Linked DNA regions of Homo sapiens: all the other regions are linked to region 1. Evidence: fine-mapped expression QTL. A gene starts in region 1. Each other region holds a variant in brackets. All regions are shown on one strand. Distances are from middle to middle.

Region 1 (5,105 bases):
TCAGCACTTAACTAATACCTGAGGAAGAGGACTCTCTGCACATCTCTGGCGCTCTCTCTCCCTTTCTGTACTCTGCCCTGTGAACTCTAGATGCATATGCCTCCTCAGATTCCCAGTTCCATCTCCTCAAGTTGAACTCCATGCTTCACTTGAGTTTCCCTTCTCTGTGCTATGACTTGGAAATTCTCTCCATCTGCGGGAAGTTCAAAGGCTCACCTCCATGATTTCCACTGCTCTTCATTGTCTGATGTCAAATGTCTTCAAATGTTTCATATATTTTGTCCTTTTAAATGTTGATTAAGGTGAAGGGCTAAATCTGGTTCCTGTTACTTCATTTTGAGAAGAAGCAAATAGGAAGTAACTTAAAAATACCACTTTTTATCAAATTCTTAGAAAAAGAGTATAACTCATTTTGCAAAGACTTTGGTATGTTTTTGAGCGTATTATTCTGTTACATCTAATAAACAATCTTTGCATTAGTAAGATAACTTTAATTGCTATAGTGTTAAATGTCCTCAAGTTTAGTTTTTCCTTATCTTCTTGTAATCAATTGGAATTAAAAAAAAAACTTCAGAATCTTCTTCTTTATAACAGGAAAAAAAACCCCAGTATTTTTGGCATTTTTAGAAGTACATTCATACACACTGTCATTTAAAACATGGGGGTGGGAGGTGGAGCAAGATGGTGGAATGGAAGGCTCCACTGATCATTCCCCCTTGTAAGAAAAACAAGTTAACAACTATTTACACACAAAAGCACCTTCACAAGAACCAAAAATCAGGTAAGCACTCGCAGTACCTGGTTTTTACTTCATATGACTGAAAGAGGCACTGAAAAGGTAGGAAAGACAGTCTTGAATCACCAATGCCCCTGACCCATCCCCCAGCAGTGGCTCTGTGGTGCGGAGAGAGAATCTATGTTCTTGGGAGACGGCAAGCACAGCAATGATGAGACATTGCATTGAACTCAGTGCTGCCCTGTTATACCAGAAAGCAAAACTGGATCAAACACAGCTGATTCTCACGCATGGAGGGAGTATTTACACCAGCCTTAGCCCGAGGAGAATCACCTATCCCAGCAGTTGGAATTTGAGTTACTGCCAATCTCACCACCTCTGGCTAGAGGGCCCTAAATAAACTCGAAAGGCAGCCTGGGCCACAAGGACGGCTCACGCCTGTAATCCCAGCACTTTGGGAGCCTGAAGTGGGAAAATTGCTTGAGGCCAGGAGTTCCAGACCAGCCTGGTCAACATAGCGAGACCCAGATTCTTTTTTTTTTTTTTCCCCCTTGAGAAGGAATCTCACTCTGTTGTCCAGGCTGGAGTACAGTGGTGCGATCTTGGCTCACTGCAACCTCCACCTCCCGAGTTCAAAGTGATTCTCCTGCCTCACCCTCCTGAGTAGCCGGGACTACAGGCGCCCATCACGACGCCCAGGTAATTTTTGTATTTTTAGTAGAGACGGGATTTTACCACATTGGCCAGGCTGCTCTCGAACTCCTGACCTCTGATCCGCCCGCCTCAGCCTCCCAAAGTGCTGGGATTACAGGCGTGAGCCACCGCGCCCGGCCGCGAGACCCAGATTCTAAAAAACAAAACAAAAAATTAGCCCGGTGTGGTGCTATGCACCTGTATTCCCAGCTACTCAGAAAGTTGAGGTGAGAGGATTGCTTGGCCAGGGGTTTGAGGCTGCAGTGAGCTATGATCACACCATTGTACTGCAGCCTGGCCGACAGAGCAAGACCCCTTCTCAAAAAATAAGTAAGTAGATAAAGTTCAGGGGTGTACAATCACAGGTGTGAATTTGCAGGATGGAGGACATGTAACATCTTTTTAAAAAAAAAAAAAATTAGAAGGACCGTATAAAAAGTTAAAGAAGACTTACTGCTCACCTGACCACCCTTCTCATAGACCCGAAAGTTAGATTTTACTTTCTGATTTTTCACAATTTCTCCTGGATGCTGCGGTCCCGCCCCTCGCAGCATTCTGGATGTTGTAGTCCCTCGCTCCAGGGCATCCACGGTAGGGTAGTTGCGCGCCCCGTGGCAGTCTGGGTAGTGTAGTTCCGTGCCCAGGGGCAGTCCGGCTCGCGTACTTCCGCGTTCCGGCATCGTCGCCTGGTGCGTGGTGAGTGTCCTTTCACAGTTCTGGTGAGCTAGCCCGGAGGTGGTCCCCGCTTTCGCGGGCCTTCCACTGGAAGGAAGGTCGGGAAAGCTGGCATGGGCAGTCCATGTCGTGGCCACATGTTCCTTGGTGTTTTGAGTTTCGGCTGTGGGGTCTGGGCGTGCGTGGTCCACCCCGGAGAGAGGTCTTGGCGGAGGTCCTCTGGTGGGGAGGGGGCGTTGGCGTTGTCGCGTGCTTCTGGCGGGACTTTGGGCCCAGTATGTTGACCTGGAGGGGCCAGTGCAGGCCTGGGACCGACTTCCCGAGCTACTTCGCAGGTGCGTCCCCGGTACTTCGGGGGCCGCTGAGTGGGCTCTGCCTGGGGTACCCAGACAGCATCCTGCCACTAGTATCCCGCCATCCCCTCCCCACCATCGCGCCTCGGAGGTCTCTGGGCCAGCAAATGTGCCTTTGGAGGACATGATATCCTCGGTTGGAGCAAACTTCCCCATTAGTGGGAGGCACGCGGCTTGGGCATCAGTCGGGTTGTTTATTTGTTTATTTATTAAATTTTATTTATTTATTTATTTATTTTTGAAACAGAGTCTCTCTCTGTCGCCCAGGCTGGAGTGCAGTGGCGCAATCTCGGTTCACTGCAATCTCCGCGCCCCACCCCAGCCGCCGGGTTCAAGCCATGCTCCCGCGTCAGCCTCCCGAGCAGCTGGGATTACAGGCACCCGCCACCACGCCCGGCTAATTTTTTGGTTTTTGTTTTGTTTTGTTTTTTTGAGACAGAGTTTCGCTCTTGTCGCCCAGGCTGGAGTGCAGTGGCGTGATTCCCCTGCCTCAGGCTCCCGAGTAGCTGGGACTACAGGCGCACGCCACCACGCCCGGCTAATATTTTGTGTTTTAGTAGAGACGGGGTTTCACCATGTTGGCAAGGCTGGTCTCGAACTCCTGACCTCAAGTAATCCCCCCGCCTCGGCCTCCCAAAGTACTGGGATTACAGGCGTGAGCCACCGTGCCCAACCTCAGTCCAGTTATTAGGGCTCTTGTGGATGGCTGGTGCACTGTGGTGGTGATGGTGCAGCTTGGCCACTAGGACCCGGGTTTGTGGGGGAGGATTGTTTGTGGGTAGACATCCAGACTTGGTCTTGATAGTGGGGGGGGGGACGGCTAGGGCCGTGCGACTCGGGTCAGTAGCCTTGGGGCCTGGGGACCCAAGTTGGTGAGTTGAGAAGGGCTTGCCTGGAGTTAGACATCCCTGGGTTGTGGGTTGCATGGGGGCGTGCTTGTATCCAGATTGTCGGCTTCTGCAGCTGTGTGGCTCCCTCGGACTTGGGGACCCTTCCGGGAGCATGGGTTGCAACAAGCAGAATGGTGCCCATAGGGCCAAGGAACATTTTTCTCAAGCCTCAGGGGGCTGTTGAGTGACTCCTTGAATTCCTGGAGGTGGGGGAAGAAGTTGGGTGGAAGGCATCCAAACCTACATTTTTTTTTTTTTTTTTTTTTTTTTTGAGATGAAGTCTCACTCTGTCGCCCAGGCTGGAGTGCAGTGGAGTGATCTCAGCTCACTGCAACCACGGCCTCCCGGGTTCAAGCAATTCTCTGCCTCAGGCTCCTGAGTAGCTGGTACCACAGGCGCCCGCCACCACGCCCGGCTAATTTTTTTTGTATTTTTAGTAGAGACGGGGTTTGTTTTTTGTTTGTTTGTTTGTTTGTTTGTTTTGAGAGGGAGTCTTGCTCTGTCGCCAGGCTGGAGTGCAGTGGGGTGGCGCGGCGCGATCTCGGCTCACTGCAAACTCCGCCTCCCGGGTTCAAGGTATTCTCCTGCCTCAGCCTCCCGAGTAGCTGGGACTACAGGCACGCGCTACCACACCTGGCTAATTTTTGTGTTTTTACCATGTTGGCTAGGATGGTCTCGATCTCCCGACCTCGTGATCCGCCCGCCTCGGCCTCCCAAAGTGCTGGGATTTCAGGCGTGAGCCACCGCACCCCGCTCGAGACGGGGTTTCACCATGTTGGTCAGGCTGGTCTTGAACTCCTGACCTCCTGATCCACCGGCCTCGGCCTCCCAAAGTGCTGGGATTACAAGCGTGAGCCACTGCGCCCGGCCAAGACCTACTCTTATTTCTAACTTCTCAGTATGAAAACATTGCAAAGATATCCAGAAGTAGTTTTGAAGTTCCATGGATTCATCACTCAGATTCACCACTTACAAATGACTCACCTGTCTTCTTTCCCCCAAATCTGCAACCCCAAGTGTGGATCTCTTTGGAAATTGTCTCTTTCACTAGGGGTCTATACCAGGATTTGGTGTCTTGAGTGACCCTTCATAGAGTGAGTTCAAATCCAGGTCTCTCCCTTTGTCACTGTCACTTTGAGCAAGGTACTTAACCTCGTGGAGCTGCTGTGAATGTAGAACGAAGTAAAACTTGTGTATGACACTTCTCTGATGTAGTTCTTTAAAACAAAATTCAAATGTCATATCATTTCATCTGTAAATGGCAAAAACCACAATTACTTTTGCACCAATCTAATACTTCAGTGTTCAGTATGCATCTCTCATAAATAAGGAATTTAAAGAAAAACAACTTCAGCATTAATGATCATACCCAAGAAAATTAACAGAATTTATTTAGTATCACTTATTCAGGCTGTGTTGTTTCCGTATTTGTCTCAAAAGTTGCCTCACTACAGATATTTGTCCACTACAAAGCTTTCCTGAGTTTTCTCTGGCAGAATTACTTCCATTGTCCTTTTTAGTTTCAGAGCACTTTATTATATGAGGACTCCACGGCTGGCATGGTATATCTCAACTGTCTGACTGTCCCACTGGTTTTGAGATAGTTCTTTGAGGGGACAGGCACCTTGTCTGGCTCCTCATGGGTCACTGACACAGTGCTTGGCACCCACCTGGACTGTGCAACTGACTGACTTTGAGGGTATCAGTTGTCTTTTTTGCCTGGAAAAGGAAGTTCATGGAGGATAGAAACTCAGATGG
Region 2 (5,105 bases), 39 kb after region 1:
ATAAATACCTGGGACTGGAATGGCTGGGTTGTATGATGATGGATACAATATATATTCAACTTTTGAAGAAACTCACAAACTGCTTTCCAAAGTGGCCGCACCATTTCACATTCCCACAGCAGTGTATGAGAGCTCCAGGTGTTCCATATTTGTCAAAACTTGGCTTGGTTATTAATTTCAGACATTCTTATAGCTGTGTAGTGAGTGGCATCTTACCGTGGTTTTAACATTTTCTTAATGACTGATGATGTTGAGTATCTTCATGTGCTTATTTGCTATCTTATATCTTCTTTAGTGAAGTACGTTTTCACATCTTTTGCCCATTTAAAAATGTGGTTTCTTATTTTTGTATTATTGAGTTTGAGAGTTCTTCACATATTCTATGTAGAAGTCCATTATCAGATATATGATTTACAAACATTTTTTCTGTGGTTTACTTTCTATAATCTTAATAGTGCCTTTCAAAGAGAAATTTTAATTTGGATGAAGTCCAGTTTTCAATCTTTTCTCTTATGAATTGCAGTTTTGGTAGTGTATTTAAGAAATTTTAGTCTAAAGTAAGGTCAAAAAGATTCTCATTTTTTTCTTTTAGTAATTTTACAATTTTTAATTACATTTAGGTCTATAAGCCTATTTTGAGTAAATATACTTGATAAAAGATCTGAATTTATGTACTTTTTTAGGGGAGGAAGGGCATACAAATATCCAATTTTTCCAGCACCATTTATTGAAAACACTACCCTTTTTTAACTGAATTTCCTATGTATCTTTGTGGAAGATCAGTTGACCATATGTGATAGGTCTATACCTGGACTCTATGTTTTTTCTACTCCTCTGTTAGTGTCTCTATGCCAATACCACAGTTTTGATTACTGTAGCTTTATTAGGTCTTGAACTCACTGTAAATCCTCCATCTTCTTTGGGAAGCTTAGGCAGGCGGATCACAAGGTCAGGAGTTCGAGACTAGTCTGGCCAACATAGTGAAACCCCATCTCTACTAAAAATACAAAAAAAACTAGCCGAGTGTGGTGGTGCGCACCTGTAATCACAGCTACTCGGGAGGCTGAGGCAGGAGGATCGCGTGAACTCGGGAGGCGGAGGTTGCAGTGAGCCGAGATCACACTATTGCACTCCAGCCCAGGCAACAGTGCGAGACTCCATCTCAAAATAAAATAAAATAAAATAAAAAATCCTCCATCTTTGCTTTTTTTTGCAAGTTCTTTTCGTTATTCTTTGTTTTTTCATATGAATTTTAGAATCAGCTTGTCAGTTTTTAACAAAAATGCCTGCTGAGATTTTGATTGGGATCGAGTTGAATCTGTATCAATTTGTGGAGAACTTACACATAAATAATACTGTGTCTTACAGTACGTGAACACAGTATAGCTCTCCATTTACATAAGACTTCTTTCATTTTTGTCGGCATTGTTTTGTCATTTCTGGTATACAGGCCTTACATATCTCTTGTCAGATTTGCCCCTAAGTATTTCATATTTTGATGCTATTTTTAAGTGTCAATTTTCAGTTGTTTATTGATGGTATGTAGAAATAAAATGGATTTATGTATAGTGATTTTGTATGCTGTAATCTTGCAAAACTCACATCTTTTTCCACTGGAATATTTTAATATGAAGGACCTTCTCTGTATTCCAGATGGAATGTGAATGGCAATCCCTAAAGCTGCTGAAGTTCCCTCTTGCAGATATGATCTTACTGACTCTAATCAATGATACAAAGAGTTTTTCTTAGGAATAGTATGGTCAAAAATAAGAAATACGTATTTTGTGATTAAAAATAGTTAACAAATAGAATAACATATAAATCAGTATTGTATTTATAATCGTCTGCCTTGAACCAAGGGTCTTCTGTTAAGTAGTTTAATTCCATTAAATTGTTCACTTCTGTTCTGATAGGGCACTTGAAACCCTGATTCAGTTTCTTGCTATGGGTTGCTACTTGCCAGGTACATTTCTGATCAATGCTCTTAAAAATTTGTTCCAGGGGCTGGGCGCGGTGGCTCACGCCTGTAATCCCAGCACTTTGGGAGGCCAAGGCAGGCGAATCACTTGAGGTCAGGAGTTTGAGACCAGCCTGGCCAACATGGTGAGACCCTGTCACTACTAAAAATACAAAAAATTAGCCAGGCGTAGTAGGTGCGCCTGTAATCCCAGCTACTCAGGAGGCTGAGGTGGGAGAATTGCTTGAACCCAGGAGGTGGAGGTTGCAGTGGGCTGAGATAGTGCCACTGTACTCCAGCCTAGGCGACAGTGCGAGACTCCTTTAAAAAAAAAAAAAAAAATTTGTTCAAGGAGACTCAATTTCTAATCTGAGTTAAAAAGCAGGAGTCTTTAAACAAAAGTAAGATAAAAAAGATAAACTAGCCATGAATAAGAAAATGCCTTATTTTTCTCTTACCAAATGCTTTGCTTATTCACTACAGCAAACAATTTCAGAGATAATGAAAGCAGACTTCTCTATTGAGGGCTGTCCCATAATGACTCATAAGAACTTAGTCCTGCCGAGCGCAGTGGCTCATGCCTATAACCCCAGCACTTTGGGAGGCCGAGGCAGGCGGATCACCTAAGGTCAGGAGTTCGAGACCAGCCTGGCCAACATGGTGAAACCCCGTCTCTCACCTAAGGTCAGGAGTTCAAGACCAGCCTGGCCAACATGGTGAAACCCGATCTCTACTAAAAATACAAAACTTAGCCGGGCATGGTGGTGCACGCCTGTAATCCCAGCTGCTCAGGAGGCTGAGACAGGAGAATTGCTTGAACCAGAGGTTGCAGTCAGCCAAGATCACGCCACTGCACTCCAGCCTGGGCAACAGAGCGAGACTCTGTCTCAAAAAAAAAAAAAAAAAAAAGAACTTAGTCAATAATTACCTAGGAGTTACGGTATCAACTTACGGAAGCTGAAAGCACTGCCAATTTCCAGAGCCTTTAATTTATACCATCATGGGAATTAGT[G/A]TTATCTCCAATTGGCAGCCTATTTAAACCTAGAAACAAAATTTTTTGAAAAAGTCAATTTGTATAGTTTTAACAGTTTTTGTGCATGGATAAGAATATGCTTAAGCCGAAATATGTATAATCCCTGAAACATCTTTATGCTAATGAGAAGTCATCTATTATTAACTTTCAAACGCTGAGCTTCTCCTTAATTCACCAGATTTTTTTAAAAATCCTGGATTATTGAGCAAAACAGTGTACGTAGTGTTGTGCAATGCTATTCGGGGAATATACTTGGCTGCAGTCTTCCCAGAGGCTAGAGGACAGCACCTTCATTTGCCCGGAGGGCAGCATCAGGGATTCCTCTTCTTCAAGAGGACTTAAGGGTGTCCATACAGTTCAGGAGACAACTCACATCAGGCTGATATGGAAGCTCCCTGGCCTAAAGCCTATTCCACACAGGAGCCAGTATCTCTTGCTACAGCTTATCTGATTCGTGGGTGCCCCTTACTTGAGTCACCACAGTCAAGGAAGCCCAAAGCATGGCTCCCCTTCAGATGCTAAGATCTTATTTATAGCACCTTCAAGATCATAATCAGTCTGTTTCTTAACTGCAGCTCAGACACCAAGTTCTTGGCTCTTGCATAAACAGCAGGCCGAACAAATGTTTCTCAGGCAAGGTTTAATAGGCTTGAGCTGGAGCAAAAGCAAGGGAGCGGCGCCCAAGAAAGGAAGATAAATGTGTAACTCTACTTGCAGCAATTTATAGAGCTGAAGCTGCCTGTGATGCTTTTTTGAACCTTTTAGTTTGGCTGATAGGACTAGTTTGTAGTGTGGGTTTTCTGTGCTGCAATAGAGCATGTAATGTGCCCTTGTGGGTTGGAAGATAAGTCTTTGTTGTGAACATCTGAAGAAAACTGCTGGGCAGGTATTACAATCCATGGTCACCTGTGGTGATTCTGACCAAGACTTTCTCTCTAGCAGAGCCTAGAACAGAATTCCAGCCAAGTTTTCCCCACCTGGTGGCCTTTTCTAGCTCGCAGCTCCTCAGACAATATGCGCTAAGTGGCCATCCCACACAGATCTTCCCAAGCTCATCTGCAGGAGGTGACTTCCAACTAGAAGCTCCAAGATGCTCTAGTGAAAAAGGAGAAAGTGGAGAGACAGAAGGCCCCGACAGCTCATTAAGAAAGAGGCCAAGCAGAATTTCTAGGACATTCTTCAGCCCACATCAAGGTGACCCAGTAGAATGGGTAGAAGGGAACAGAGAAGGAGGAACAGACCTTCGCCTGGCCCAAAGGATGAGTCTTGGGGGGTCAGACACAATGTTGAAGGGAGCAGACACTTCAGAATCTGGAGCAGTCATACGTGGAAACTATAGACTGGGACTTAGCAAAAAGTCAAGCCTGTTCAGCCACCAGAAGCATCATGTGTGCCCTGAATGCGGGAGAGGCTTTTGCCAGAGATCAGACCTTATCAAGCACCAGAGGACACACACCGGGGAGAAGCCATACCTGTGTCCTGAGTGTGGGCGTCGGTTTAGCCAGAAGGCCTCCCTCTCCATACACCAGAGGAAGCACTCGGGGGAGAAGCCGTATGTGTGCAGGGAATGTGGGCGACACTTCAGGTATACATCCTCTCTCACTAATCACAAGAGGATTCACTCCGGGGAGAGGCCCTTTGTATGTCAGGAGTGTGGGCGAGGCTTTCGCCAGAAGATAGCCCTCCTTCTACACCAGAGGACGCACTTGGAGGAGAAGCCCTTCGTGTGTCCTGAGTGTGGGAGAGGCTTTTGCCAGAAGGCATCACTCCTCCAGCACCAGAGCTCACACACAGGGGAGAGGCCCTTCCTGTGCCTTGAGTGTGGGCGTAGCTTCAGGCAGCAGTCACTCCTCCTTAGTCACCAGGTCACACACTCAGGAGAGAAGCCTTATGTCTGTGCTGAGTGTGGGCACAGCTTTCGCCAAAAGGTCACTCTCATCAGGCACCAGAGGACACACACAGGGGAGAAGCCTTACCTGTGCCCCCAGTGTGGGCGGGGTTTTAGCCAGAAGGTCACCCTCATTGGACACCAGAGGACACACACAGGGGAGAAGCCCTACCTGTGCCCTGATTGTGGGCGTGGCTTTGGTCAGAAGGTCACCCTCATCAGACACC
Region 3 (5,105 bases), 240 kb after region 1:
CTGATAAATTCTACCATTACTTTCTTTCCTTCATGCCTTGATTTTCTGCTTATTAGGTTCTCGTTTTTATACATATATTCCATTTTAAGATGATATGGATTCCTAGATTCATGTTCAATAAAAATACACAAATTAGTGGCGCATGGTGGTGTGCACCTGTGGTCCCAGCTGCTGGGAGGCTGAGGTGGGAGCATGGCTTGAGTCAAGGCTGCAATGAGCTAAGATTGTGCTGCTGCACTCCAGCCTGGTGATAAAGGCAGACCTTGTATCAAACAAGAAGATTTATAAAGCTTTTTCCTCCCTTAAAATTCTAAGATTTAAGAATTAATGATACTGAAAGGCCTATGAAAGTATGTAGATATGGCAGAGCCTGCGCTGCTGCTGCTGTTTGTTTGTTTTTTAAGGCATTACCATGGCTTACTGCAGCCTCAACCTCCTGGGCTCCAGTGATCCCACCTGAGCCTCCCAAGTAGCCGGGACTGCAGACATGTGCCACTACACTCGGCTAATTTTTTTTTTTTTTTTTTTTTTTTTTTTTTTGTGTGTGTGGTAGAGACATGGTCTCGCTGTGTTGCCCAGGCTGGTCTCAAACTCCTGGACTCAAGTGATCCTCCCAAAGTGTTGAGATTAGAGGGGTGAGCCACTGAGTCCAGCTCCCTGCTGCTGCAACCTTTTGGGCTCAAGCAATCCTCCCACCTCAGCCTCCAGAGTAGCTGGGACCACAGGCACGCACCACCACACCCCACTAATTTTTGTATTTTTAGTACAGATGGGGTCTTGCCATGTTGCCCAGACTGTTCTTGAACTCCTGGGCTCAAGTGATCCTCCACCTCAGCCTCCCGAAGTGCTAGGATTACAGGCATGAGCCACTGTGCCCGGCCCTTCTGTTGCCGCTTCTGATAACCATGTGAAAATCCTTATAGGGAGAAAGTAGTGATGACTTACCACTTTCTCAAATTAAAGGAAAGGAAATGATCAGCTAAATAATTTTTTACATGTATATTTGAGCACATACAAATGCTTGTCTTCACAGACATTTTGAATTAAGTTTATCTATTGTAAGCAAATGTCAGTCTTGGCCATGCATCTCAGTGTGCTGCTTTTATCTTTACAGCTCTTGTTCAGAAGTGATACCTGAAACATTCTCAAAAAAGGAAGAAAGGCCGGGAGTGGTGGCTCTCCCCTGTAATCCCAGCACTTTGGGAGGATTCTGCTATATATATAAGAAGGCCAAAATAACTTTAAAACGCAGACAGACTTTCAGAACCATTTCATAAAGTACACAAACACACACACACACACACACACACACACACACAGAAGACAGGAATTAAAAACACAACAGCTGGTGCGCTTCATGGTTTTAAAACTCTTAATGGTGCCTGGAAATATAATTATAGCACAGTAATAGATGTTTATAGTATTTATACTGTATATAAATTGAAAATACTGTATTTTAGAAAATTTCTCATTAGAAATATTTACCTCAAGTAATTAGAATTTAAAATTTATAAATATGGAACACTTAATTGTTCGATTCCAATGTGTGAGAAGTTCCTATAGAAGCATTGGCGTGGTGCTTTTATGTCCCAGTTGGTATCAGTGCTCTCTTTTGATCACAGGCCTGTAATCAGCGTTGATATTTTTCACATTAAGACATTTTGAACTTTTTCTTACAGGGTTTCTCTGCTGGGCTGTTTGCATTTTGCCATGATGAAGATGGAAATCCTCTCACTTCAAGATTTGCAGATGGCCTCCCACTTTTTAATTTTAGGTTTTTTTTTTTTTTTTTTTTTTTTTGAGACGGAGTCTCGCTCTGTTGCCCAGGCTGGATGGAGTGCAGTGGCGTGATCTTGGCTCACTGCAAGCTCCGCCTCCCAAGTTCACGCCATTCCCCTGCCTCAGCCTCCCGAGTAGCTGGGACCACAGGTGCCCACCACCATGCCTGGCTTATTTTTTGTATTTTTAGTAGACAGGGTTTCACCGTGTTAGCCAGGATGGTCTCGATCTTCTGACCTCGTGATCCGCCCGCCTCGGCCTCCCAAAGTGCTGGGATTACAGGCATGAGCCACCGCGCCTGGCCAATTATAGGTATTTTTCATTTCTGTTCTTGTTCTCCTCTATTAGAAGGGTGCCAAGACTAGAATCTGAGAATCATAGCATATTAGATGCCATAAATAATAACGTCTTTATGGCAAACCCATCGAAATTGTAGATAATAAAACAAAATAGGGTATAAGAGGCCATTTTATGAAAACATAACTTGTGAGATAGGCAATATTTACATAACGATGTAAGTAAGGAGGAGAGAGATACCCATACACAAGAACCATTCTTAAGCTGATAATTTGCAGTGCTTTCTTGCATTGAGCATATTCCTCAAAAGCATCAAACCTTCTGGCCAGGCACAATGGCTCGTGCCTGTAATCCTAGCACTTTGAGAGGCTGAGGTGGGCTGATGGCTTGAGCCCGTGAGTTCAAGACCAGCCCAGCAATGTGGCAAAACCCTATTTCTACAAAAAAAAAAAAATAGAAAAATTAGCCGAGCATGGTTGCATGTGCCTGTAGTCCCAGCTATTCAGGGTGCTGAGGTCAAAGGATCAGTTGAGCTCAGGAGGTTGAGAATGCAGTGAGCTGTGATCACGCACCTGCAGTTTAGCCTGGGTGACAGAGCAAGACTGTCTCAAGAGAAAAAAAAGAGAAACCTTTCAGTAAAAGTGAAGATTAAATAGAGTAATAAATTCAGTTGTTACAGATAAAAGAATTGGATTTGGCTTTAAGCTGTGTATTTGGGGAAACAATCTGAAGTATGAATGGTAAAGAGAGACTGGAGTGATTAATAAGGTAAAAACTTTATTTTCCGGCTGGCTTTGTTCACTATTTATGTTTAAACATTGCCTTGCCATGGAAACA[G/A]ATAAAGGAATTAAAAACAACCTCTTTAAGGCATGGGTAGATGAACAGATACGTGATAACAAATATAACAAAATGTTAATTACAGAATCTAGGTGAGCTGGTTACTGATTGTAAGAGTGTTTATTAAACAATTCTTTTAATGTTTTGTATGTTTGAGATTTTTATAAAACAATATTGGAGAAGAAAACTCTCTTTATGTTTTCTGTTCTTTTGCTGAGAATGAGAGATTTATAGGGAAAATGGCAGAAGCAGTCTAGGGAATAAGCCAGAAAAAAATGATTTAGGTTACAGGGAAAAATAAAAATTGATATCCATCATAATTTTCTGTAATAGATAAATATGTTACTTTTGTAGTAGTGCTTTTATTTATGCAGGATAGATTTCCCAAACTGGGATTGCTGATTTAAAATCTGTTTACACTATAAATTTTAATAGAAACTGCCATACTACATTTTTTTTAAAAAAAGGTATAGCAAAGCAGATTCCTACCAGGCGTGTATGAATGCTCGTTACCAGTTTATCAGTATTGGATATTATAGATCTTTTTTATTTTTTAAGCCCAATTTGATGGATGAAAGATGGTATCTCATTGTTGTATTTCCAGGACTATAGTGAGGTTTTAGCCATTTGCATTTTCTCTTTGTACACTGCCTATTTATTTTCCTTGTCCTGTCTTTTAGGTTAATTTTCCCTTTCTAATCACATTGTAGGAGTTCTTTATAAGTTAGAGATAATACCCCTTTTCATGTTTATTATAAATATTTCTCCTAGTTGTTTATCGTTTTACTTCATTTATCATGCTTTTGCCACGTATAGAAAAATTCTTAAGTTTTTTATCACTAAATTCATCTATCTTTTTTTTTTTTTTTTTTTTTTTTGAGATGGAGTCTCACTATATTGCCCAGGCTGGTCTTGAACTCCTGGGCTCAGGCAAGCTTCCTGCCTCAGTCTTTCAAGCAGCTGGGACTATGGTCATGTGCCACTGTACCCAGATGTTTTTTTCTTTGTTGCTTAAGGCCTCAAAAGATTATAAAAATATTCTCTTACATTTATTCTAATAAATTATTATTCGGCTTCTCAACATTTGTAGGTTCGATCCATTTGAAACTTTTTTGATTTATGTATTTTGGGATTCTTTTGTAGGGTGCATATATGTTTATAATTGTTATATCTTTATGCTGGATTTACACTTTTTTTGGGGGGGACAGGATCTCACTCTGTTGCCCAGGTTACAGTGCAGTGGCATAATCATGGCTCACTGCAGTGTTGAGCTTCCCAGGCTCAGGTAATCCTCCTACCTCAGCCTCCTGAGTAGCTGGGACTACAAAAGTGTGCCACTATGCTCGTCTAATTTTTTATTTTTATTTTTATTTTATTATTATTTTTTGAGATGGAGTCTCTGTTGCCTAGGCTGGAGTGTAGTGGTGCAGTCTCAGCTCACTGCAACCTCCACTTCCCAGGTTAAGGTGATTCTCCTGCCTCAGCTTCCCAAGTAGCTGGAATTACAGGCATGTGCCACCACGCCTGGCTAATTTTTGTATTTTTAGTAGAGACGAGGTTTCACCATGTTGGCCAGACTGGTCTCATTCTCCTGACCTCAGGTGATCTGCCCACCTCTGCCTGCCAAAGTGCTGGGATTACAGGTGTGAGCCACTGCACCTGGCCTACATAGTATATCTTTTTATCCTTTTACTTTCCACCTATTTGTGTTCTTTAGTCTAAACTATGTCTCTTGTAGATGCATAGTTAGATCATGTTTTTAAATTCAGTTTTCCAATTAACCCTGTTCTGCCTGCTACAGTGGCTGTCAGGCTACTGGTTTTCACCATGATTGTGGGCTGTCGGTTTGCAAGGCTGCCTGAAAGCTGGAGAGAGGGCATGGAAAAGCACCACAAAGTTCCTGTTTCTGCTGAGATTCATCCATTTTTCATGAATAAATGCTTTCTGCATTGCTGTAAATCTTTGATTAATTTCCAAAGTTTAAAAAGTTGATTTCACCAATTTGGGTAGCTTTCTCGTTGCTTTGATAGGAGAGAATTTTGAGAGATTTTTACTCTGTCATTTTTGCTTATATCCTTCTGGAATTTTTGTATGTGGTGAAATAGGGATTTAACCTTTTTTTTTTCTAAATGGATAATCAGTTTCACAGTAATTAGATAAATTCTACTTTCCCACTAAATTAATATGGCATT
Region 4 (5,105 bases), 230 kb after region 1:
CAGGAGATTGAGACCACGGTGAAATCCCATCTCTACTAAAAATACAAAAAATTAGCTGGGCGTGGTGGCGGGCGCCTGTAGTCCCAGCTACTCGGGAAGCTGAGGCAGGAGAATGGCGTGAACCTGGAAGGAGGAGCTTGCAGTGAGCCGAGATTGCACCACTGCACTCCAGACTGGGCAACAGAGCGAGACTCCATCTCAAAAAAAAATAAATTAAGAGAAGATGTATTTATAACTTTTACTTTTAGTACAGCTTCTGAATTTAGTTATCAATAGATAGGACAAAATAGATGAGCATCTGCTTCCCTTCCCCCTAAACAATGTATTCTTACTGAAATGTAATATATTTTTATTTATACTTGAAGACACTGTTTTTCAATCTTTTCCTTGTTAGTAGCTCAGATCTTTAAGGACAGAGGATGTATACTGGGGGCAGCTCGTGGTCTTAATCCTGACTGGCACTCTGATATTTTAGATTTCTTTTGTATTTGTGAATAAAACTTCTGCTCCAGTAGGATGAGCCTGTTTACCTTGTGACTCCCTAACTAATCTATTGCTTTATAGATTCAAGTTCAAGTGATTCTCCTACTTCAGCCTCCCAAATTGCTGGGATTACAGGTGCCCGCCACCACGCCTGGCTAATTTTTTGTATTTTAGTAGAGATGAGGTTTCACCATGTTGGCACGGGCTAGTCTCAAACTCTTGACCTTGGTGATAGGCCCATCTCAGCCTCCCAAACTGCTGGGTTTACAGGCAAGAGCCACCACGCCCGGCCTACTATGTCTTAAAAGTGTTTGCATCGTTACCTAGATTCTCTTTCAATGTGAGTTTTTATTGGTTTATTATAGGTTATTTTATTTTTAGGAAGCCATCATTCTTTAGAGGGCAATGACGGAACAGTACCAGCAGAAATTGAAGTACCAGCAGAAGGTTTTTTTTGTTTTGTTTTGTTTTGTTTTTCCAGCAGAAGGTTAAGAGAAAAAGACATTTTATATTTTATTGTATTTGTTGGGTTTTTTTTTTTTTTTTTGAGATGGAGTTTTGCTCTGTCACCAGGCTGGAGTGCAGTGGCACGATCTTGGCTCAGTGCAACCTCCGACTCCCTGGTTCAAGCAATTCTCCTACCTCAGCCTCCCAAGTAGCTGGGACACACGCCACCACACCCAGCTATTTTTTGTATTTTTAGTAGACACCGGGGTTTCACCATATTGGCCTGGATGGGCTCCATCTCCTGACCTCCTGATGCACCCTCCTCGGCCTCCAAAAGTGCTGGGATTACAGGCGTGAACCACCACGCTCGGCCACCTCCTCTTGTACTTGGGAGAAATGCACTGATTCTGGTTGCCACGTGGATTTATTTTGGGAGTGATATTGATCTAACTTTATGGAAATAATACTAGATAGAAAGTTAGCGGATGGATTCTCTATCTAATGAGAGTTTTGGGCAAATCGAATACCAAGTTTCCGAGTCTTACTTTTCCTCTGATGCAAGAAAACTCTGAATTAGCCAGCCTGTGAAAAACTCTCACAGCTCTGGATGTGAGTTTAGGACACTGGATTTCTACCACTCAATTTCTTACTACTTTTCTTGCGCAGGGATCATGGCACAAGTTGCAGTTTCCACCCTGCCCGTTGTAGATGAGGAGTCCGTTGAAGATGAGGAGTCCATTGAAGATGAGGAGTCCTTGGAGAGCAGGATGGTGGTGACATTCTTCATGTCAGCTCTTGAGTCCACGGTGAGACCTTCTGTTCTAACATTCTATGGTCGGGTAGGACTGGGCGGTAGATAAAATTGATTTGTTTTTGTAGAACATATAATTTTATGATTTTTATTTCTAATGAGTATATCTTTTTCTTGAATAGTAGTTATGATCAAACACTTCTAACCAAATGTGCCATGTTATCCAGCCTGGTCTCAAAATTCTGGGCTCCAGCGACCTGCCCGCCTTAGCCTCGAAAAGTGCTGGGATTACAGGTGTAAGCCATTGAACCTGGCCAAATATTTTTCTTTGTATGGCTGAATAATACTCTGTATATGTATATATTACATTTTCTTCATTCACCATTCATCCATCATCCATTCATCCATTCTTTATCAACCCTGATGGGCATTAGGGTTGGTTCTACCTGTTGGCCACTGTGAATAATGCTGCTGTTAAACGGGTGTACAAATACCTGTTTGAGTCCCTGCTCTCAGTTCTTTTGGGTATATACGCTTAAAGGGTGTTGGTGGATCAAATAATTCTATGCTTAGTATTTTTAAGGAGCTGCCAAACCATTTCCCACAGTGGGCTGTACCATTTTACATTCCAAAAAGCCTCCAATTTCTCTATAGCATTACTGACAGTTAATATTTTGTTTATATACTGTATTTTTATACTGTTTGAAATTAATCTGAGGGTTTTTGCTAATACCAAAATATTAGGAAAGTTTTTCCAAAAATCATATTCCTTATTATAAAGACTTTTACATGTTACTTGATGCCCTGTGATCTATTTTCTCAGTAAGAAGAGGAACTTCCTGGCTGGGCGCGGCGGCTCATGCTTGTAATCACAGCATTTTGGGAGGCCGAGGCAGGTGGATCACAAGGTCAGGAGTTCAAGACCAGCCTGTCCAACATAGTGAAACCCAGTCTCTACTAAAAATAATAATAAAAAAAAATTAGCCGGGTGCAGTGGCAGGCACCTCTAATCCCAGCTACTTGGAAGCCTGAGGCAGGGAACTGGTTGAACCCGGGAGGCAGAGGTCGCAGTGAGCCAAGACAAAGACACTGCACCCCAGCCTGTGTGACAGAGTGAGATTTGGTCTCAAAAAAACAAAAAAGAAGAACTTCTCTCCATCCAG[T/C]CTCATTCCACTGCACCAACTCTTTTTTGTGTCGGGTTGTGCAGGGGAGAAAGGGAGCTTGGCACCTCTTTCCTGTGTTGACTTGTGGTAGCCCATCACTGGGCACTGGGTTGTACAGCGCCTTGTCTCCTCTTTTTTGTTTTTGTTTTTTTGAGACCGAGTCTCACTCTGTTGCCCAGGCTGGAGTGTAGTGGTGCGATCTCAGCTCACTGCAACCTCAGCCCCCCCGGGTTCAAGCGATTCTCCTGCCTCAGCCTCCCAAGTAGCTGGGGCTACAGGCATGTGCCACCACACCTGGCTAATTTTTTATTTTTAGTAGAGATGGGGTATCGCCATGTTGGCCAGGCTGGTCTTGAACTCCTGACCTCAGGTGATCCGCCCACTTTGGCCTTCTGAAGTGCTGGGATTATAGGCATGAGCCACCGTTCCTGGCCGCCTCCTCTTTTACTTGGGAGAAATGCACAGATTCTGGGTGCCATGTGCATTTATTTTGGGAATGATATTGATCTAACTCATGGAAATAATACTAGATAAGAAAGTTAGCGGATGGATTCTCTAATCTGATGAGAGTTTTGGGCAAATGGAATTCCTAGTTTCTGAGTCGTATTTTTCCTCTGATGCAAGAAACCTGTGAATTAGCCAGCTAGTGAAAAACTCTCACAGTTCTGGATGTGAATTTAGGACACTGGATTTCTATCACTCACTTTCTTACTACTTTTCTCACGCAGGGATCATGGCACAAGTTGCAGTTTCCACCCTTTCCTTTGAAGATGAGGAGTCTGTTGAAGATGAGGAGTCCTTGGAGAGCAGGATGGTGCTGACATTCCTAACGTCAGCTCTTGAGTCCATGGTCAGACCTTCTGTTCTAACATTCTGTAGTTTGGTAGGATTGGGAGGTAGATAAGGTTGATTTGTTTTTGTAGAATGTATAATTTTATGATTTTTATTTCTAATGAGTAGATCTTTTTCTTGAATAGTAGTTATGGTCAAACACCTCTAACCAAATGTGCATGTGGAGTTTCTACACCGATTTTCGGACAATCTGGATACCAACTGGGTATCCCACAATTCCATCCTGACACTCCCCGGAGTTAGTGCAGACCCCGCAGGATGGGGGCTCAGTCCCAGGAGTCTACCCTCACTCCACATGCCAATTGCAAGTCCTGGGTTGTTAACATGTACTTTTGACAAACCAGTTAGGAAACAGGGTCTCATAACCCCCTTCGTGGGTGGAATCATTTGCTAGGACAGCTTGCGGAACTCAAAAAACAAGTTATTTTCTTTTATTCTCAGATACAGGGTCTCACTCTGTTGCCAGGCTGCAATGCAGTGGTGTGATCAAAGCTCACTGTAGCCTCGAGCTCCTGGGCTTAAGTGATCCTCCCGCCTCACCCTCCCAAATAGCTGAGACTACAGGCCTGCTCCACCACATCTGGCTATGTTCTTTTATTTTTTGTAGAGATGGGGTCTTGTTATGTTGCCCAGGCTGGTCTCAAATTTCTGGGCTCACATAATTCTCCCACCTCAACCTCCCAAAGTGCTAGGATTATGGGCATGAGCCACTGTGTCTCACCAATTTACGTTCTATTACTGGTTCACTGTAAAGGATATATGTTAGAAACAGCCAGTGAAAGAGATGTACATGTTGGGCACAGTGGCTCATGCCTGTAATCTCAGCAGTTTGGGAGACTGAGGCGGGAGCATCACTTAAGCTCAGGAGATTAAGACCAGCCTGGGTAACGTGGTGAAATCCCATCTCTGCAAAAAAATTTTTCTAAACGTTAGCCAGGTGCAGTGACATGTGCGTGTAGTTCTAGCTACTCAGAAGGCTGAGAGGATGGCTTGAGCTAGGGAGGCATAGGTGGCAGTGAGCCACGATTGTGCCACAGCACTCTAGCCTGGGAGACAGAGCCAGACCCTGTCTCAAAAAAAAAAAAAAAAAAAAAAAAAAAAAAAATGCACAGAGCAAGGTATGTGGGGGGAAGGGCACAGAACTTCCATGCTCTCTGTTGTGCATGTTACCCTCCTCATATGCCCCTTGTGTTCAACAACCCAGGCATTCTCCAAACCCTGTTGTTGAGGGTGTTGATGAAGGCTTCGTTATGCAGGCATGATTGTTGAAATCATTGACCATTGGTGATTAAGTCAATCTTCGGCCACCATTTCTTCTGGAGCTCAGTGGGTGAGACTCACAGTTCCAAGCCTCTGGCAACCAGCCCTCCTCCTGAAGCTGTCTAGGAGCTTTCAGTCACCCAGTCATC
Region 5 (5,105 bases), 110 kb before region 1:
GGGGTTTCACCAGGCTGGCCAGGCTGGTCCCGAACTCCTGACCTCAGGTGATCCACCCTCCTAGGCCTCCCAAAGTGCTAGGATTACAGGCATGAGCCGCCGCGCCCAGCCACACCCATACATTTTACCATGAACCTTCACATCTATAGGACAACCTCATCTGTGAGGCAACATAGCTTGCCAGGAAAAGAGAAAGAGTCATATGGAACATGACACATTGCAGCCTTGGAAAGGTTATCCTACCTCTCTGTGCCTCAGTTTCTCTGACTTAATGAAAGCTAATTTCTTGAGCCTCTTAGGGCTGTGGAGATGAAATAAGAGATAACACATGACAATGCCGGCCCAACATGGGTGCTCAACTAGTGCCCCTTGTTTGGACTGGCTGATCCTCCAGGAACCCCCAGGCAGGCAGACGAGACAGGCACTGAGGGCTGGGAAAGGCCAAGTCAGAGTCCACAGACTGGCGATGCCCAGGATCAGAGAGGAAGGGCTGAGAGATGGCCTCGTTCAACACACGTGAATGAAGAAGGAACAGGAGAGGCCAGGGGCTACCTGCCTCAGATGGTCCGGCTGTGGTGGGGTGGTGGCCCTATCCCCCAACTCCTCCCTGCTAACCTGAGGCCAGGATGCTGTGCCTAGGAGTAGCTGGATTTTAGTAGGTTCATCTTCTCAATTACACAGGACCACAGACTCTTTCAGTAAAGAGCCAGAAAGTAAATACTTAAGACTTTGCAGGTCATGCGTGGACTCTGTTGCATATCTTTGTTTTTGTTGTTTTGTTTTTCGCTTTTTGTTTTATATAATGCCTAAAAAATGGCCAGGCACGGTGGCTCATGCCTGTAATCCCAGCACTTTGGGAGGCCGAGGTGGGCAGATCACCTGAGGTCAGGAGTTCAAGACCAGCCTGACCAACATGGCGAAGCCTCGTCTCTCCTAAAAATACAAAATTAGCCGGGCATGGTGGCACATGCCTGTAATCCCAGATACTCGGGAGGCTGAGGCAGAAGAATTGCTTGAACCCAGGAGGCAGAGGTTGCTGTGAGCCGAGATCACGCCATTGCACCCCAGCCTGGACAACAAGAATGAAACTCCGTCTCAAAAAAAAAAAAGAGTCTAAAAAATCTAAGAACCATCTTGGCACACGAGCTGCAAAGAAAGGAGCTGCAGCTGGATTTGGCCGCCTGGCTCCCCGACACGTCCTGGCACCCCCGAAGCACTCAAGGAGCTTCCTTGCTTCATCCCCTGGAGGAAAGCCGGGCCTGGCCATGGCGCTATTGTGACGTGGCTCCCAGAGCAGTTTCAGGCCTGTTCTAGCATCTGGCCGGGGCGGCAGCCTGAGAGCCATGGAGCCGCTGGGTGCAACACTGTCCTGCCCGTGTGCATGGAGCTGCTTACGTTGCCTGCACTGCTGCTGTCCTGTTCCCACAACTTCTGCAAACAGTGCCTGGAGCTGATCTTGGTTTACCAGAATTGCACCCAGGTCCAGGGATGGTTCTGTTGTCCAGTGTGTAGGAAAGTAAGAGGAAAATCAGGGCCCTTTGACTCCACGAGGGAGCAGACTTCTTTCTGGTCTGCACTCTTCGAACTCTAGCCCATGAGAAAACTGGGGACTTTGGGCCCCAAAATGAAGACCAGCAAGGCAGACCCACATCTCTGAAGGGTTGTGAGAGGGCATCGGCAGGGGAGGACAGGCTTTTCCTTTAGGCTTAGAAGATCCATCAGGACCCACAGGGAGGAGCTACAGGAGGATGTACATTGTGGCCTAAGGTTGGAGAGAACTTTCTTACAGAACAGCTTGTTCAGTATGCGCTGGGGTAGGTAGGGCCATTTATTAGCACTTGCTAGGTGCCTTGTCACTGTGGTGGAAGACCAGAGAAGCAGAGCTGATGAGGGTTCAGATTTCACCCTTTAAGGAGAGATAGACCACACATATAATGGGAGACCCCACAGTGCAGGTCTGCAATGCACCGCAGGGGACAGGAAGGCCACAGGGGAGGCACTGCTGCATAGAATCTACGGTAGGACTGATGCTGATGGAGAGGGCAATCTAGGAAGAGACAGTGGCAGATAGCAAGGCCCGAGAAAGAGAGCCTAAGAAAGGAGGTGCTTAAGGGCCTGGCCCAGAGATCACGGAGGCTTGAGCATAAGGTGCTGTGGGAGACACCTGGGGCTTTAGGGTACCCACCCGAAGGGTAAGTAGGACATATTCCAGGAGGCCCTACACATCAAGCAAAGGGCTTTGCATTTTATCCTGTAAGCAGAGGGGAGCTAGTGACATATTTTAACCTGGAAAGGGTCATCATAACGTTGACTTCTGAAAGCACAATGTCACATGCTCTCATGGAAATTCTTTGTGTAACATTTCGCCAGCTGGACTGTAGGAATCATGACTGGTGTTGCCCCAGACCCTTTGGATATTTGTGGAAGGAAGGAAG[G/A]AAATCTAGAAGGAATAGGTTGCAGGCAGAGGAATCCTGAGGGGCTGGAGGGCAGGGAGAGAGGCAGGCGGTCATCACCTGGCTTTTGGGGGAGGGGTGCCATGAGGTGACTGCAGAGACAGGGGCAACAGCTCAGAAGCACCACACATTTGGATGGATCATTTTATTTGTCAACCTGGAATTTTCACTTATTTGTATGTTTATTTTTAAATCATATCAAAGAAATAGTGTAGAAAAGAGTTTATAATGAAAAGCAATGCTGCCATCCCACCCCTAGTCCCACTCTCCAGAGGCAATCTCTCCTAACTTTTTCTACCTCATTCTTCCTGCAGTCACCACCATAGCTCTGAGTATGTGTTTATCTCACCATTCTTCGCCCACTGGTTTTAGACGCTACTGGCATTTGCTGCCTCTCCGACGACTGAGCTTCTCGTGCACAGCTCCTTCCTCATCTTCCCTCCCTGAGCAGGTCCATGGCAACCTTAATTTCTCTATTGTGATTTTAAGTTAATGCACCAAGCAACTAGAGATAATGGCACCCTCTGAAGCTCCACTTTGTAAGGGAGGCGGTCCTTGTCCCCTGCCCTGCTCTCTGGCTTTCCTGCTCCCAGGTGACAGACACACAGGCTCCTCAGACTCCGGGAGCCCATAAGGAACCTGCAAAGGGCACAGGAAGTACACTGGAGGTCTTCGCAGAAATTTTGTTGAGCCTGGATTTGGGGGTTGGGCAGGTCATGCAGGTGCGGTCCCAAGAGGGTTGAGCAGAAGTAGCTGTGCGTCCTCACCCTGACAGAACACAGAGGATTGAGCAGAGGGACAGTGCTGGCTGGGATACTGGCTGCACCTGCGGCCTAGAAGGGCGGGAAAGAGCTTTGGACTGATTGAGTAGAGGCAGAGATTTGAGAAGGGAGGGAGGAAGAGGACTGGTGTGCCCAGCTCTGAAGGCAGACCCTCTGGGACATTTTCAGTGCTCTTCAGTTTTCTTTGAAAAGAAAAAAGGCCCAGATCCCAGGCGCAGGCCCATTCATCTTCCCTGGAGTATTCATTCTGCTGAATCCTGGAAAAGATTTATACACCAGCAGCATTCTGTAGTGAGTGTTATGCTGGAATTCAAACCCAGGTCCACCTCTTTTCAAGACAAGTTCTTTTCTCATTTCCGAGGCACCAGGGAAAAGAAATCACTTCCCTGCACTGGTTCTGTTGGGGCCAAAAGATCAGGAGATGATTGCCATTGAAAAGGTAGTTTGTTACTCAGAGTTCCCAAGAGGAGGGAGCCCCCCACCACGCAGGGCCACATGGGGAAGCCCCAGGGTTGATCAGGAAGCAAAAGGAATGGCAGGGAACTGTGGTCCAGGGCCTTTGCTGTGGTTTCCACAGGAAGAAATGGGGAGGGGAGGGTAAGCAGGCTAAAGACTGGCTAGTGTGAATCATTTCAGTGGGCTCTGAGGCATAGGAGCTGTGCCTTGCTCTCTGGTAATTAGGGCAGATGGACAGTGGCCTGCGTGTGAGAAGGTTGGATGGTTGGGGGTGTGGGATCTGGGTTGGTTGGTTTGCATCTGAAAAGCACAGTCCCAGGTGAGATCCTTTACTCTGTCTAGGAGTTGGCTAACCCTGGGAGGGCAGGCCCCAGGTGCCAAAACATCAAAATACAGAAAATAAAAGACACAGTGAGACCTGGTCCTTCGTTCTCTGCACTCCACTGGCATATCCAACTGTGCAGTCATTGACTGTGAGCATTTCTTACCACTGGACTGAGTTTCTGTGGAAGACAGAGTAGGTCCTAACCAAAACTCAATGGACTGAAGGAACGCAGATTCCAGTTTCACCTGATGGAGTTTGTAGTGACTTTCACAACAGATACTGGTAACAGGCCCACAGCAGGGCCAGCCTGGAAGTGTCATCGTGCAGGGTTCTCACAGTCACTTCCCTCTCCAGGTCTTGTCAGCCTTCCCCAGGGTGGAATGTGAGTTCTTTCCTCCTCCCAGATGGTGTTTTAGTGACCAGGAAGGGACATATTTCAACCTCCCCCAAAGATGAGGTGGCCTTTGGCCTCAGGAATTTGCCACAAACTCATGTGATCTCTGTGTTTTAGGACATTTATTTGAAGGGCAGGGGAACAAATGGATTGCAGGGAAACATCCTGGCTGAAAATATCCTGGAAAAGCTTAAGGAAGTACTTGAGACACTTCACACCGGGGAGCAAAACCAGCTCGCTCAGATGTGTGAAAAGCGTGGAAAAATCATGAATCTGGTATTAAATTATACTTTTTAAAATTTTCTTTTTGCCTAGCTGCCCAATCTGTCAAATTACTCGGTAAGCCTACATAGTTGAAACCAGATGTTTACTCAGGAGTATAGTAGAGGATTACTTTCCAAATCCACAGCCCAGTGCTAACTTTATTCTTGATTTGTAACGTGGAGCCCAGGGACGAATGTGTGTGTGTGTGCGGGGGGTGAGGGGGTGCATGTGTAGGGGGGGTGCATGTGTGTGTGCGCGCACACACACACATGCAGTATTCAGCCCTGCAGCCCACAGTGGGGTTGAAGGGGTCACATGTAGAAGGGCTCAAACAGGTACAGTGATTTATGAGATTTATGAGACTCCAGCCACCCTCAGTCATCTCGGAGAGAGGGTGCGGTAGGATGAGACTGGCGAACCGGCTATTCCTT

Evidence for each region. PIP is the estimated chance that this variant, and not a neighbour inherited with it, causes the effect.
Region 2: its variant is fine-mapped to the expression of ZNF169 in whole blood (INTERVAL, PIP above 0.99).
Region 3: its variant is fine-mapped to the expression of ZNF169 in whole blood (TOPMed, PIP above 0.99).
Region 4: its variant is fine-mapped to the expression of ZNF169 in cerebellar hemisphere (GTEx, PIP 0.99).
Region 5: its variant is fine-mapped to the expression of ZNF169 in cerebellum (GTEx, PIP above 0.99).

Annotation. Positions count from the first base shown.
Region 1 is chr9:94,257,221-94,262,325 of GRCh38, forward strand. ZNF169 (zinc finger protein 169) reads left to right here and starts at 2,078. Exons shown (of 5, transcript NM_194320.4): 1 at 2,078-2,125. LINC02603 (long intergenic non-protein coding RNA 2603) reads right to left here and starts at 2,091. Exons shown (of 3, transcript NR_160773.1): 1 at 1,891-2,091. RefSeq lists enhancers at 1,597-2,242, 2,081-2,400, 2,243-2,889, 2,431-2,560, 2,890-3,535.
Region 2 is chr9:94,295,883-94,300,987 of GRCh38, forward strand. ZNF169 (zinc finger protein 169) reads left to right here. Exons shown (of 5, transcript NM_194320.4): 5 at 3,933-5,105. Among named protein-coding and RNA genes, the nearest start is that of NUTM2F, 30 kb to the right of the region's middle. The variant G/A (reference allele first, on the strand shown) is at 2,970.
Region 3 is chr9:94,496,377-94,501,481 of GRCh38, forward strand. All of the region lies in intron 1 of LOC107987100 (a long non-coding RNA gene), which reads right to left. It also overlaps the pseudogene LOC100421692. Among named protein-coding and RNA genes, the nearest start is that of PCAT7, 56 kb to the right of the region's middle. The variant G/A (reference allele first, on the strand shown) is at 2,914.
Region 4 is chr9:94,484,104-94,489,208 of GRCh38, forward strand. LOC107987100 (a long non-coding RNA gene) reads right to left here. Exons shown (of 3, transcript XR_001746844.2): 2 at 3,549-3,717; 3 at 1,339-1,775. Among named protein-coding and RNA genes, the nearest start is that of PCAT7, 68 kb to the right of the region's middle. RefSeq lists an enhancer at 3,975-4,144. The variant T/C (reference allele first, on the strand shown) is at 2,845.
Region 5 is chr9:94,146,659-94,151,763 of GRCh38, forward strand. It overlaps the pseudogene LOC107987099. Among named protein-coding and RNA genes, the nearest start is that of MIRLET7A1HG, 17 kb to the right of the region's middle. The variant G/A (reference allele first, on the strand shown) is at 2,436.